Homo sapiens: one gene and its partners. The protein of the gene in region 1 purifies or fractionates together with the protein of each later gene. This does not show direct contact. Each region holds a gene or a part of one and is shown on either strand. Other genes may lie near its edges.

Region 1 (4,168 bases):
TGGAAAATTTCTACTAACATTTTTGACTTGGTAAATTTCTACTAACATTTTTTAACCATGCTACATTTACAAACACTGAAAAGACAGAAAAAAAAAGAATATTTTGCCTCAAAAAGCTCTTAAGAGACTATGTAATAAAAGAAAAAATATGAATCAGAAAAGGAAAGAAATAGAAACACGTGATACTGGAAGGAGGAGCTAAATTTCTCTTGGAGAAACTGTTAGTCATCATCTCAATACTCTATTGCATCTGTCAGTGTGTTGAAAAATGCTCAGAGTTAGATTGAGCAGGAAAAACAAATGCCAGGAAAAAAGAGCCAAGAGTTAAATCAGGATACAAGTAAGAATGAAAGAGAGGCTGAGTTCACAAAGAAAAGAACAATAAAGGAAAAAGAATGGGAATGTTGGTGGCTGCCAAGTATTTGAGAACTGAATAGGGTATGGAGAAAAAAATTCTTGATTTAAGAATAATGAAAGAAGGTTAGGTGTCAGATGTTTGTGTCTGGAAGTTCCTGTTAGAAAAAGCTGTTACAGTTTTAAAATAAGTTATTTAGTCAAGATAATGAAGATTAAGTCAGAGCACCATAAAAAATATTAACTGTTATCCTTTGAAGCAGAATGATAATACTAATTCAAAAACATGGAAGTGAAAAAATTATCCTGTCCTATACAAGAAAAAATTTTAAACAGAGATAAAAAACCATAATTATTCACACTAAATTAGCAACAAAGAGGAAACATGTATGATAGGCTAAATAAAAAACTCAGACGCAAAATTATGAACAAATTTCACTAAGTAATATATGTACAATAAATACTGTTAGAAAAATGAACAACAGTTTAAAGAATTATGATAGCATATAGGATAACCAGCAATTTTTGTGTCTTTTTACAAATGTATTGTTATGAGTTGTCATTATCATTTTAAATGGGAAATAAGATCAGTTATGAATTGAATACAGTAAAATTTAAGAGCCAAAACCTTAGACGGCCTTCAAAAGAAAATCTAAATGATGAGAAAACTATAAAAATCTAACAAACTTTTTATTGAATAAAGGTGTTAGAAACAATGATTTATTTATAGCAATTCATTCATTCGAAAAGTTTACTAAGTATACAAAAATTAATATACTTTATAAAGAAAAGTTACCCCAAGTTCCTTTCTTCCCCCAACGTTTAAAGGTAATCAGAGCATATTGTTTTCCTCAGCTTTAAAAATCTGTAACAAAGGATCCAAGAAGACAAGAAAGAAACAAAAAAATACTTCAAATTTTGCATATAAAATTTTACATCTTTCCCAGGTGACCTCGAAACTCAAATGTCAGAACCAAAGGCAGAAGCAGGTATCTGGGCAGTGCCAACTGTCAGGGAGGATGCAAAGAGAAGTCGTCACCAGAGAAACCAGGGTCCGAAATGCAACCAGCAACAGGGAAATGTGAAGCCTTAAACAGGAAATAAAAGCCTGGGTTTCTTTAGACTATGGTTGGGATAAGGAAGGGGAGTACAGGGGTGATAAACTTTAGCAATATTCCCAGAAAGTGTTGGCGCCTTTGACAGAAGCATGGGAAAGAAGGCATCCGGGTAGAGGCTCTTCACTATTTGCTGGTGGAGGGATCATAGACCCCTCTGAGATCTTATGGACCCTCTCCCCAGAGCACGTACCGGGCAGTATTTACTCCATTTCAGGAGTTCCACAGCCTTGGGGTAGGAGCCCCTGCCTAGGAGATAATAAGACTGACGCTGCCTGATATTCTCACGCCCGCATTCATTCATTCGAACAGGGGATCCCTTTTGTCACGCAAGCAGCTCTACCCTCAGCATCCTACCCGTAACAGGAGCTCCATAAACACTTGTTGACTGACTGCTTGTATCGAGTGCTGAGCTGGAAACAGAGGTGATGAACAGGTATGATATTAAAATAGCAACTAGAGTGTACTGAGTGGACACTGTGCTCTAAAGGTTTTATGTGTATTTTCACATTTAATATGTATTTTCACATTTCTCCCTTTGCGGCGGCCCTTTTCAATACCCATCTTACAGATGAAGCTTAAACTGATTAGCAATTTGCCCTCCAATGACCCGACGACTAAGTGGCAGAGCCCCAATTCTCACCCGGGGAATACTGATTCCAGAGCTACGCTCCTGGGAGCTCACGATGCAGTAGAAGCATCAGAAACGGTAAAGGGGGTGGGAGGGGAGGAGTAAGTGTGACCCAGACTACAAGTAAGAGGAGCTAAGATGCCTTGGCAAATCCCTGCCAGTCCTGAGAGGCGGGAAGCTGAAAGGCTGGCCCGAGTCTTGCAGGAGTTCGCAATCCAGGCGGGGAGTTAGGAAGTGACTCTTTTTTAAGGGGGAGCTGGACAGCTCTCGTCGGCCTTCACCAAGCGCCCACTTCGTGTCCGGCCTCAGGCCACACAACCAGAAGGGCCCGGGCCTAGAAGCCCGAGGGCTCGGGGTAACGAGGCGACGCCGGGCGGCGGGGAGGAGGCCGGGGACCGCCGGGGTTCCTGCAGGCCTGGGACGGCGGGCCTGCTCGAGGACTGACCTTCCCGGAGGCGCCGTCCCCCAGCACGACGATTTTCAGTTGCCGGTCCTGGCTCTCCTCCTCAGAGTCCGACATGGTGTCCCGGGAACCAGGCCCGCCCCTCGAGGTGGGGGGGGAAGGGAAGGATGAAGGCTCCGGGGGCGGGGGAGAGGAGGAAGGGAGGTAGTTGCGGCAGGACCCCCGCCCCGGTGTCTCCGCGCCGGCAGGAGGTATTCGAGGAGAATCACTCGGCAAGCGCCATCTTGCCCACCTCCCCGCCCTCTGCGCGCGGCCCCGCCCCCTACGCGCACGTCGGGCGCGCGCCCCCGCCTCAGAGCCAACCCGCGCCGACCGGCGGCCCCGCCTGACGAGCCGAACCACTCGCGGCCCTGGACTGGTGTGGGGGACATTCCGGCGGGAGAGGCGAGGCGCTGCGTTTCCCTTCAGGAGACAGTTGGCTAGAAGAAGAAAAGAAGTGTTCGTTCAAATTAAGGAGAGAAAACGGGAGCAGAGCAGCTTTCAGGCGTTCCATCAAATTCCCTTTTCTCCTTCCCTCTTGAGAAAGTCTCTGAAGGGAATGGTTCAGCCTGACGGGGTGGAGCAGTGACGCCCGGGCTACGCGCCAGGGTTGCCTGGCAGCCAGGAGTTCGAGGACCGGCGGCGGGGCGGGGCCTGTCTCCGGGCACCCGGGACGCCCGTAGCCTGGCGGAGAGCGCCAGAGAGGGCCCCTGAAAAACCGGACCAGGGAAGAGGGTACCTCGGGGCGGATGAGGGGACAGCTGCTAAGGGCCGAGGCTGCTGGGAAGCCTCAGTAGCGGCCGTGAATACAGTGGAGCTCCGGCGCTGCTTATTTCGGCCTAACTCTTGGTTTCCTCATCTGAACAACCCCAGGCTCCCATGGTTCGTTCATCAGACGCTACTGATCGCCAACCTCCTGGCACCCCATCTTTACCCTAAGGCAGCAGTTCTCATAAAGTGTGGTCTAGGGACCTCTGGAAATCCCGATGACCTCAGAACAATTTTCATAATAATACGGACACCTTGTCTGTCTTTCTCACGTTCCTTCTCTCACTAGTATACCGTTTCCTGGAGGATACGCTTTGTGTACGACGTCATCACTGGCAGCTAAGGGAGCTTGCGTTTGTTGTTTTTAAACATTTCTCAGTTTTCATTTCAATGCAGTAGTGATAGGTGTAACCCACATAAACATAAGCTCTTTGGAGGTCACAGTAATTCTTTAACATTATAGAGAGGCCCTGAGTCCAAAAAATTTAAGAACTGCTGCCCTGGATAATCTCAGTCCAGGAGCGTTAGGTAAACGGCATAAATGAAATTTACAATTTAGTGAGGTAAATTCAAAAATAATAATGCTGTCCTGCTATGGTTGTTTCATTGTTAATCACTTAAAATTTATTGTTACCTTTACTACTATTAGGAATTATGAAGTATAATTATCCCCATTTTGCAGATGAAGTATCTTAAGTTAACAAAATGCTTAGCCCAGAGGCAGTAGTCTTGGAGACCATATGGGCATTAGAACAGGAAAGCAGAACAGTGTAAAGAAATGCCCAGACCTAGAGGCATCACTGGAGTTTAATCTCATGTTTACTAGATATGTGTCCTCGAGCCTCAGTTAGTTCACCT
Region 2 (3,651 bases), on another chromosome or scaffold:
GACTATGGTGATGGTTGCACAAATCTGTGAGTATACTAAAAAACACTGAATTGTCCACTTTCAATGGGTGGATTGTATGGGTTGTCAATTATATCTCAATACATATGTTAAAAAATTTAAATGCCCAAATATTTTTGAACACTGCTTCTCTTTATGGTTTTACATCAAGGAGTTTGCAGTTTTGCAAATGGAAATAGATATGTAAAGCTTAATGAATTCATCCAATTACTCAAGTAATTTTCAATATATTAAGAAGGTAGCTAGAAAACTTTAGAACATTGAATGCCCATCTGGTCAACACTCTAAAATAAATCCACTAAATCACAGCTCAATTTTCCTCTATAAACAGTTATTTTTTTCTGATACCAAAGATATTCATTTTATTTAAGTATTATAGTTAGAATAACCCCCACTCCAATATCTTTAATAAAATGAAAAGTCATTTTACAAACCGATTTGAGTTGGCTATTTTCATCTTTCAACTTCACAACATGCTTGATTTTTTGTTTCAAATTCTGATGACCCAATAATTTAGCATATGAATCTCTTATTTTATTTAGCTGTTCCTGAGCTGCACCATGTTCATTCAACAATGCCTGTTTTTCTACTTCAAAAGCATCTAGTTGTAGCTGAAAAAGATTTTTTAAATAAAGTTAAGACTTAAAACAGTTTGATCTTACTAGTTTCATATAAACCATAAACACTAAAGAAAATTAAAAACACAAATGAAAACAAGGTATGTTCACATATTCTCAGGGCTCTCCATAGATTCTCTATGAGAATCTTTTAAACTTTGTATTTTTCATTTTAAAGATCATTAAAACAGAGGAAAAGAAACAAGGTAAAAAAGCCAGCTGGCCAGTTTTATCTGTATCAGTTAGATTACCACATTATAACCAATACTGTACTTCTAAGTTCCAAAATCAGCATTTATTCTTTTTTCTTTTAAAAGATCAGTATATTGAGAAACAATGAGTATTTGCAATAAGTCATACCACAAATTAAAATAGGTTAATTATCAAAAGCTCATACCAGGCAAGCCCTCTGAGCCAAACTTTTAAGTTCCACATTACAAAGTTTTTTTTTAAACCACAAAGGGTCCATTGAAAAAATTATGTCAATTAAATTTGTCAATTATACTTCAATAATGTGGGAAAAAATTATGCATAATTTAATAAAATGTATAAACCTTTAATAGTGAGCTAAATTGGCACTGTAAGTGCAGAGCAAAATGATCTTGCAGAAAACCCGAGTCACTGTCCTCACTATAATAGGGAACAAAGTGAGTCCCTAAAATAAACACAAGTAAGTTTACTCCTAACTGACAAACCTGAAAAGGTTTTGTTTTATTATATAGTTCTTCATAGAGGAGACGCCACTTGTTAATTTCTTCAGTTAATTCTGCTGTTGTATTTTCTTTTTCAGCTTTTCTGCATGGAAGAATTAAATTGAGAAAAACATAGTTATTTAAAAAATCACATCGTAACTGAGTTAACAAGGCACTCAGGTTCTAATCATAGATTACCTTCCTTCTTCATCTTCCAGCTGTTTTCTAAAGTCTTCCTCCTGTTGCTTGAGTTGGTTCTGCAAATCAGTTATTTTTTGAAGAAAAGAAACTGTGATTTCTTTAATTTCTGTTTCCTTTAGTGCTGACTTGGTCTGCAGATCTAGAAGCATCCTTTGGTTTGAGAGAGAAGAGGTCACTAAACATTTTATAGCCACTTTCATTAATTTTTCCTTTTTTTTTCTTTAAACCTCAAGGAACTCTTCAAGAAGTGTCATTTTTTAACTGAGTAAATTCTTAATTTGCAGTATAAGATGGCCAAAAGCAAGCCAAGGGACAGTTACTAGCTGGCTTTCAACATTAAATTGTCTTAATGGTTCTAAGGCCATTATTTGCTCTATATACCTTACATATTCTTGATTTGAGCTCTCAGTTGCCAAAATCTGATGCTGAACATCCTCTGCATTTTTCCCAGCCTTGGCCGCTTTTTCCTGTAATGATGAGTTCTCCAGCTTAAGATCTTCTATCTCACTGGCTGTTAACGCTTTATAGCTTATTAAAAAGAAAAAAAAGTCAAAGTAGTTTTCTAACTATTGCGTATGACAATCATAACTGATTAGTTTACACTTTATATACTTCTAAGTAAAACTAAAAAGTTTTTAATGTATTCATGCATTTAACACAGGTAAGAATTCAGTGTTCTGAGGCAAGTACTAATGAGTTTACATGGCATCTGCTGTGTATTCAAAGAAAAAAAAATCAAGTGCCTACTAGGTGCAGGAAGTATGCATACAGAGATGGAAAAGAAATCAACTACCAAGCATGAAAATTACTCACAATTTAAAAAATAAGAAGTGAGACTAGAGCCTAATGAGTAAGAAAGGCTGGAGCAGAAGCTGGTGGCATGAGGGTCATCACCGCAGGGCACAGTGGGCTTACCTGGCGGACAGACGGGAACCATTAAAGGTGTCCAAGTAGGCTGGGCGTGGTGGCTCATGCCTGTAATCCCAGCACTCTGGGAGGCCGAGACGGGTGGATCACCTGAGGTCAGGAGTTCGAGACCAGCATGACCAACATGGTGAAACCCCATCACTACTAAAAACACAAAAAATTAGCCAAGCGTGGTGGTGGACACCTGTAATCTCAGCTACTCGGGAGGCTGAGGCAGGAGAATCACTTGAACCTGGGAGGGGGAGGTTGCAGTGACCTGAGATAGTGCCATTGCACTCCAGCCTGGGCAACAAGAGCGAAACTCCGACTCAAAATAAACAAATAAATAAAATAAAAAGGTGTTTAATTAAATGTGTAGCTCACTCTAGAGCTATGAGGAAGATGGATTAGGGCAGGGGAAAAGAATGGAAAATTGAAGGATCAACTCCAAAACAATTATTTATCAGCCCAGGTGAGTGATAAAGGAGGCTTAGACTAAGGAGCTGGCAATGGAAAGACACAAGATCTCTTTTGGAAGCAGAGTAGGAAAATTCAAGAGATAGACTGAATATTGGGGGTAAGGAAGAGAGAATGATGAAGGATGACTCTAAGATTTACAGAATGAAAAGCTGGGAAGATGATGTCACTGATTACAATAAAAACAATGAGAGACTAGGGGTAGAAAGCAATGGAAGGATCAAGAGTTGGTTTGGACAGGTTAATATTAAAAGACAGTGTGATATCTACTTGAAGATGTCAAGTGGGTAACTGGATATGTGAATATGGAGCTGTAAAGAAAGGTCTGGTTTGATGAAATAAATTTTAATGCCACGAGTATATGGATAGTGACTAAAATCACAGAATAGATAAAAACCCCCTGAAGCACTATTCTTCAAACTAACGAGAAGGGAAATTCCTTTACAGGATTGATATTAGCAATAAATATATATATATAAAATTTACATATATTTATATGATTTATATGTTCTGATACAATAAAAATTATAAATAAAACATATACACTTATAAATTATTTATCTATGTGTCTGTCATAATGTATCACATGTGGGAACAGATCACTGGGGAAACAAGGTACAATTTAATGAATTAAATTAAACTAGGCAGTTGGTTGTCCATAGGGAAAACAAAAAATGAATTTGATCCCTATATTGCTACACACACAGAAATCAGTTCTAGGTGGAAAAATGGAAAGTGAA
Region 3 (3,651 bases), on another chromosome or scaffold:
ACTACAGGTAAGTGCCACTGCACACAGCTTAATTTTCATATAACTTCAAAATAGAGAAACTTTGCTTAAATTAATATACTTGTCTGAAAGTTAGAATCCATCAGGAGTTTTAATAATTATGCTGAACAGTTAATGAATGCAGGATGAAACAAAACTAGCATAGCCAAAAGTTCCCATCCAAAATGATTTTCTTTAGGAAAAGTTAGCCAAATCTTAAAAACAAGCAAAACAAAACAAAACAAAAAACCTGTGAAGTTTAAAACTGTTTAAGGCCAGGCATGGTGGCTCATGCCTATAATCCCAGCACTTTGGGAGGCCAAGGTGGGCAGATCACTTGAGCCCAGGAGTTCAAGACCAGTGTGGGTAACATAGAAAAATCCCGTCTCTACAAAAAAAAAAAAATATATATTAGCCGGGTGTGGTGGTGTGTGCCTCTAGTCTCAGCTACTCAGGAGGCTGAAGTGGGAGGATGACTTGAGCCCAGGAGGTGGAGGTTGCAGTGAGCCGAGATCGTGCCACTGCACTCCCGCCTGGGTGACAGAGCAAGACTCTCAAAAAAGAAAAAAGAAAACAAACAAAAAAAAATTTTAAATATTCAGAAACTAAAAAATGAACTAGCAAATAAATCAAATAAATCAGAATCCTTCCAGAGCTAAAAAAACATTCCTTCCAGAATTCGAATTCCTTTAATTCACTTTGGTTTATGTATAACAAAATCAAAGGCTCCAGAAATCTTCAAATAATACAGCAAAGCACCGCAACAGTATGCTCCATCTTTAGACATATCCAGACCAAAATGTGCACACGCAAAATGCCAAATACACACGCTTACCCTTTCAAGTAGGTCTTAGTTCTACCCCCAAACTCAAAAATTATTAAAGATTATACAAGTAATTCCTTTCGCTTACCTGTCAGCCATATTTCTCCACTTAAAAAGCAAATTACTTGCAGAATCACCGATGGGCAGGTGCAATCTCTCCTTAAAATATTTCACAATGCTTTGTTCCTCTAAAAGCACAGGAACTCGGTATGTGGAAGAAACATCATGGATACATATGACCTAAGTGGCGATGAGAAATCACCATACTTAGATGGATCTATTCAAATATGCCACCACAAGAATGAAACAAAATTCAGCAGAGACTGGCAGTTTATTTACACTGATATAACACACACACACGCACACACAAAAACCCAGCAACCAAAGCTAGCATCAGAATTTGCACAAGGTTAGCTTCATTTAATTAGAAAACTAATCCCAGCACTATGGGAGGCCGAGGCGGGCAGATCACCTGATGTCAGGAGTTCGAGACCAGCCTGACCAACATGGTGAAACCCCACCTGTATTAAAAATGCAAAAATTAGCTGGGCATGGTGACATGTGCCTATAATCCCAGCAACTCAAGAGGCTGACGCAGGAGAATCGCTGGAACCCAGGAGGCGGAGGTTGCAGTGAGTCGAGATCGCACCATTGCATACCAGCCTGGGTGACAGAGCAAGACTGTATCTCAAAAAAAAAAAAGAAGTGTACACAAAACGATTGGACAGGTCAGGTGTGGTGGCTCACGCCTGTAATTCCAGCACTTTTGGAGGCTGAGGCAGGCGGATCATCTGAGGTCAGGAGTTCAAGACCAGCCTGGCCAACATGGTGAAACCCCATCTCTACTAAAAATACAAAAATTAGCCAGGCATGGTGACACACACCTATAATCCCAGCTACTCAGGAGGCTGAGGCAGGAGAATCGCTTGAACCCAGGAGGCAGAGGTTGCACTGAGCCAAGAGTGCACCACTGCATTCCAGCCTGGGTGACAATAGTGAAACTCTGTCTCAAAAAAAAAAAAAGATTGGACGCAAACAAAATGGCATGACAACATATCAACATACAGATGCAGAAGTGTCCCTTCAATCTGCCATCACATTTTTCAAAGTAGTTCAGACTTCGGCAATGACTCTGAGGCATCAGGCAGGGGGCTCTCCATCAGACTATTTTCCAAGATGCCAAAATTCAATTTGATCATTTTTAGACTTCAGAGAACCCAGAGTTATAATCTGAAGAAAAGATTTCTGCCAAACCTCACCCTTTTCCTGAGCACCATTTATATCACTCTCTTTAAACTATAGGTAACTCCAATCCCTTATAACCAAGCCTTATTGGAATCAAGAGACAGAGATGAGAGAAGGAAAGAAAAAAGAAAAGCGAATTATCAGAATACCAAGGTGGAAAGCCCTACAGAGCAGAGAACCTAAGCCCAAATCACAGTACAGTTTCTGTACCAATGAAGTCAACTGAGCCCACTGATGGAGTCAGAAGAGCTAGTGCGAATGTCAACGTGCTCGTGTGTTTGGGGTGACTTAAGCTGCCACAGGTAGAGAGGAGAAATGAGTGAAAGCAGTAAGTGTTCCAGAAGGAAACACAAGATAAAGAGATGATAAGTAGGCTTCATGTGGTTCTCTCTCTAGAGGTTTGACTGTGAGTTAAACACCCACCCTGGTACTGGGCACGATGGCTCACGCCTGTAATCCCAGCACTATGGGAGGCTGAGGCGGGCGGATCATCTGAGGTCAGGAGTTCGAGACCAGCCTGGCCAACATGGCAAAACCCCATCTCTACTAAAAATACAAAAAAATTAGCCAGGCGTGGTGGCGCATGCCTATAATCTCAGCTGCTCAGGAGGCTAAAATAAGAGAATTGCTTGAACCCAGGAGGCAGAGGTTGCGGTGAGCTGAGATCATGCCACTGCACTCCAGCCTGGGTGACAGAGTGACACTCTGTCTCAAGAAAAGAAAGCCCACCCTGGTTTTGTGACATAAGTTGAGTGATCATGCAAAGAAACATGCATCCTATCTCACTTAAGGGCTAGGGAATCATGGTTGGATCAGGGTTCCCCAGTGCTTGCATAAATGCCGTGAAAAGTAATATGATCATTGAAGAGGTACAAAACACTGGCATCAGCAGAAGTGCCTGCCAGACAATAAAATCTAAAGAGCAGCACCAACCTGTTCAGGGTTCACGTGACAAAACATAGAAATCTTCTCCTTCACGGCCATCTCAATGGGCGTTGAACTTCGGCAGACAATCTGTCAAAGCCAGTTATGCTTCAGCAAACAGGATTCACTTTCAGCAGGATGCCACATTCATTTCTTTTTACAAGAAACTTGGCCAAGTATGTACTTGTTCACTTTGGACATTCCACTGGACTATTAGAAATTGGTCTGAGCACTAATATAAGTATAATCAAATTCAGCATAAGTGTATCAGTAAGAACTCGAAACATCGAGACGTCTCTGGTGAACAGAGTCCAGGCTCACAAGTGTTGCTTCATTAACTACAAGAAAAGAGCTAGATCGGGGTTAACAAACTTTTTCTCAAAAGGGCCAGATGGGAAATATTTTAGGTTTGCAGGTGACACAGTCACTGTCCTGATCCTCAATTGAGGTGCAGTGTGAAAGCAGCTACAGACAATATGTAAATGAATGGGTGTGACTGCATGCCAATAAAACTTTACTTACAAAAACAGGCAAGCAAGTTGTGGGCTGTTATTTGTCAACCTCTGACAGAGACTACTGGTGATGACTGGATCACCTGCTATAAGGACACATCACTGTTTAGACTAAAAATAAGAGCAGCGGACTGGGCGTGGTGCAATCCC

What was found.
Region 2: the proteins of RAB28 (region 1) and HMMR purify together in Homo sapiens (affinity purification with mass spectrometry, with the first as the bait; one large-scale study listed by BioGRID). This does not show direct contact.
Region 3: the proteins of RAB28 (region 1) and CTPS2 purify together in Homo sapiens (affinity purification with mass spectrometry; one large-scale study listed by BioGRID and IntAct). This does not show direct contact.

The regions. Positions count from the first base shown.
Region 1 is NC_000004.12:13,481,531-13,485,698, forward strand, and holds the start of RAB28 (ras-related protein Rab-28), read right to left. Parts: upstream 2,811-4,168; 5' UTR 2,621-2,810; coding exon 2,546-2,620; intron 1-2,545.
Region 2 is NC_000005.10:163,481,047-163,484,697, reverse strand, and holds part of HMMR (hyaluronan mediated motility receptor), read right to left. Parts: intron 2,095-3,651; exon of another isoform or gene 2,057-2,094; coding exon 1,910-2,056; exon of another isoform or gene 1,679-1,909; coding exon 1,526-1,678; exon of another isoform or gene 1,431-1,525; coding exon 1,331-1,430; intron 630-1,330; coding exon 453-629; intron 1-452. UniProt on the Homo sapiens protein: Receptor for hyaluronic acid (HA). Involved in cell motility. When hyaluronan binds to HMMR, the phosphorylation of a number of proteins, including PTK2/FAK1 occurs.
Region 3 is NC_000023.11:16,688,542-16,692,192, forward strand, and holds part of CTPS2 (CTP synthase 2), read right to left. Parts: intron 3,080-3,651; coding exon 2,999-3,079; intron 1,061-2,998; coding exon 909-1,060; intron 1-908. UniProt on the Homo sapiens protein: Catalyzes the ATP-dependent amination of UTP to CTP with either L-glutamine or ammonia as the source of nitrogen. Constitutes the rate-limiting enzyme in the synthesis of cytosine nucleotides.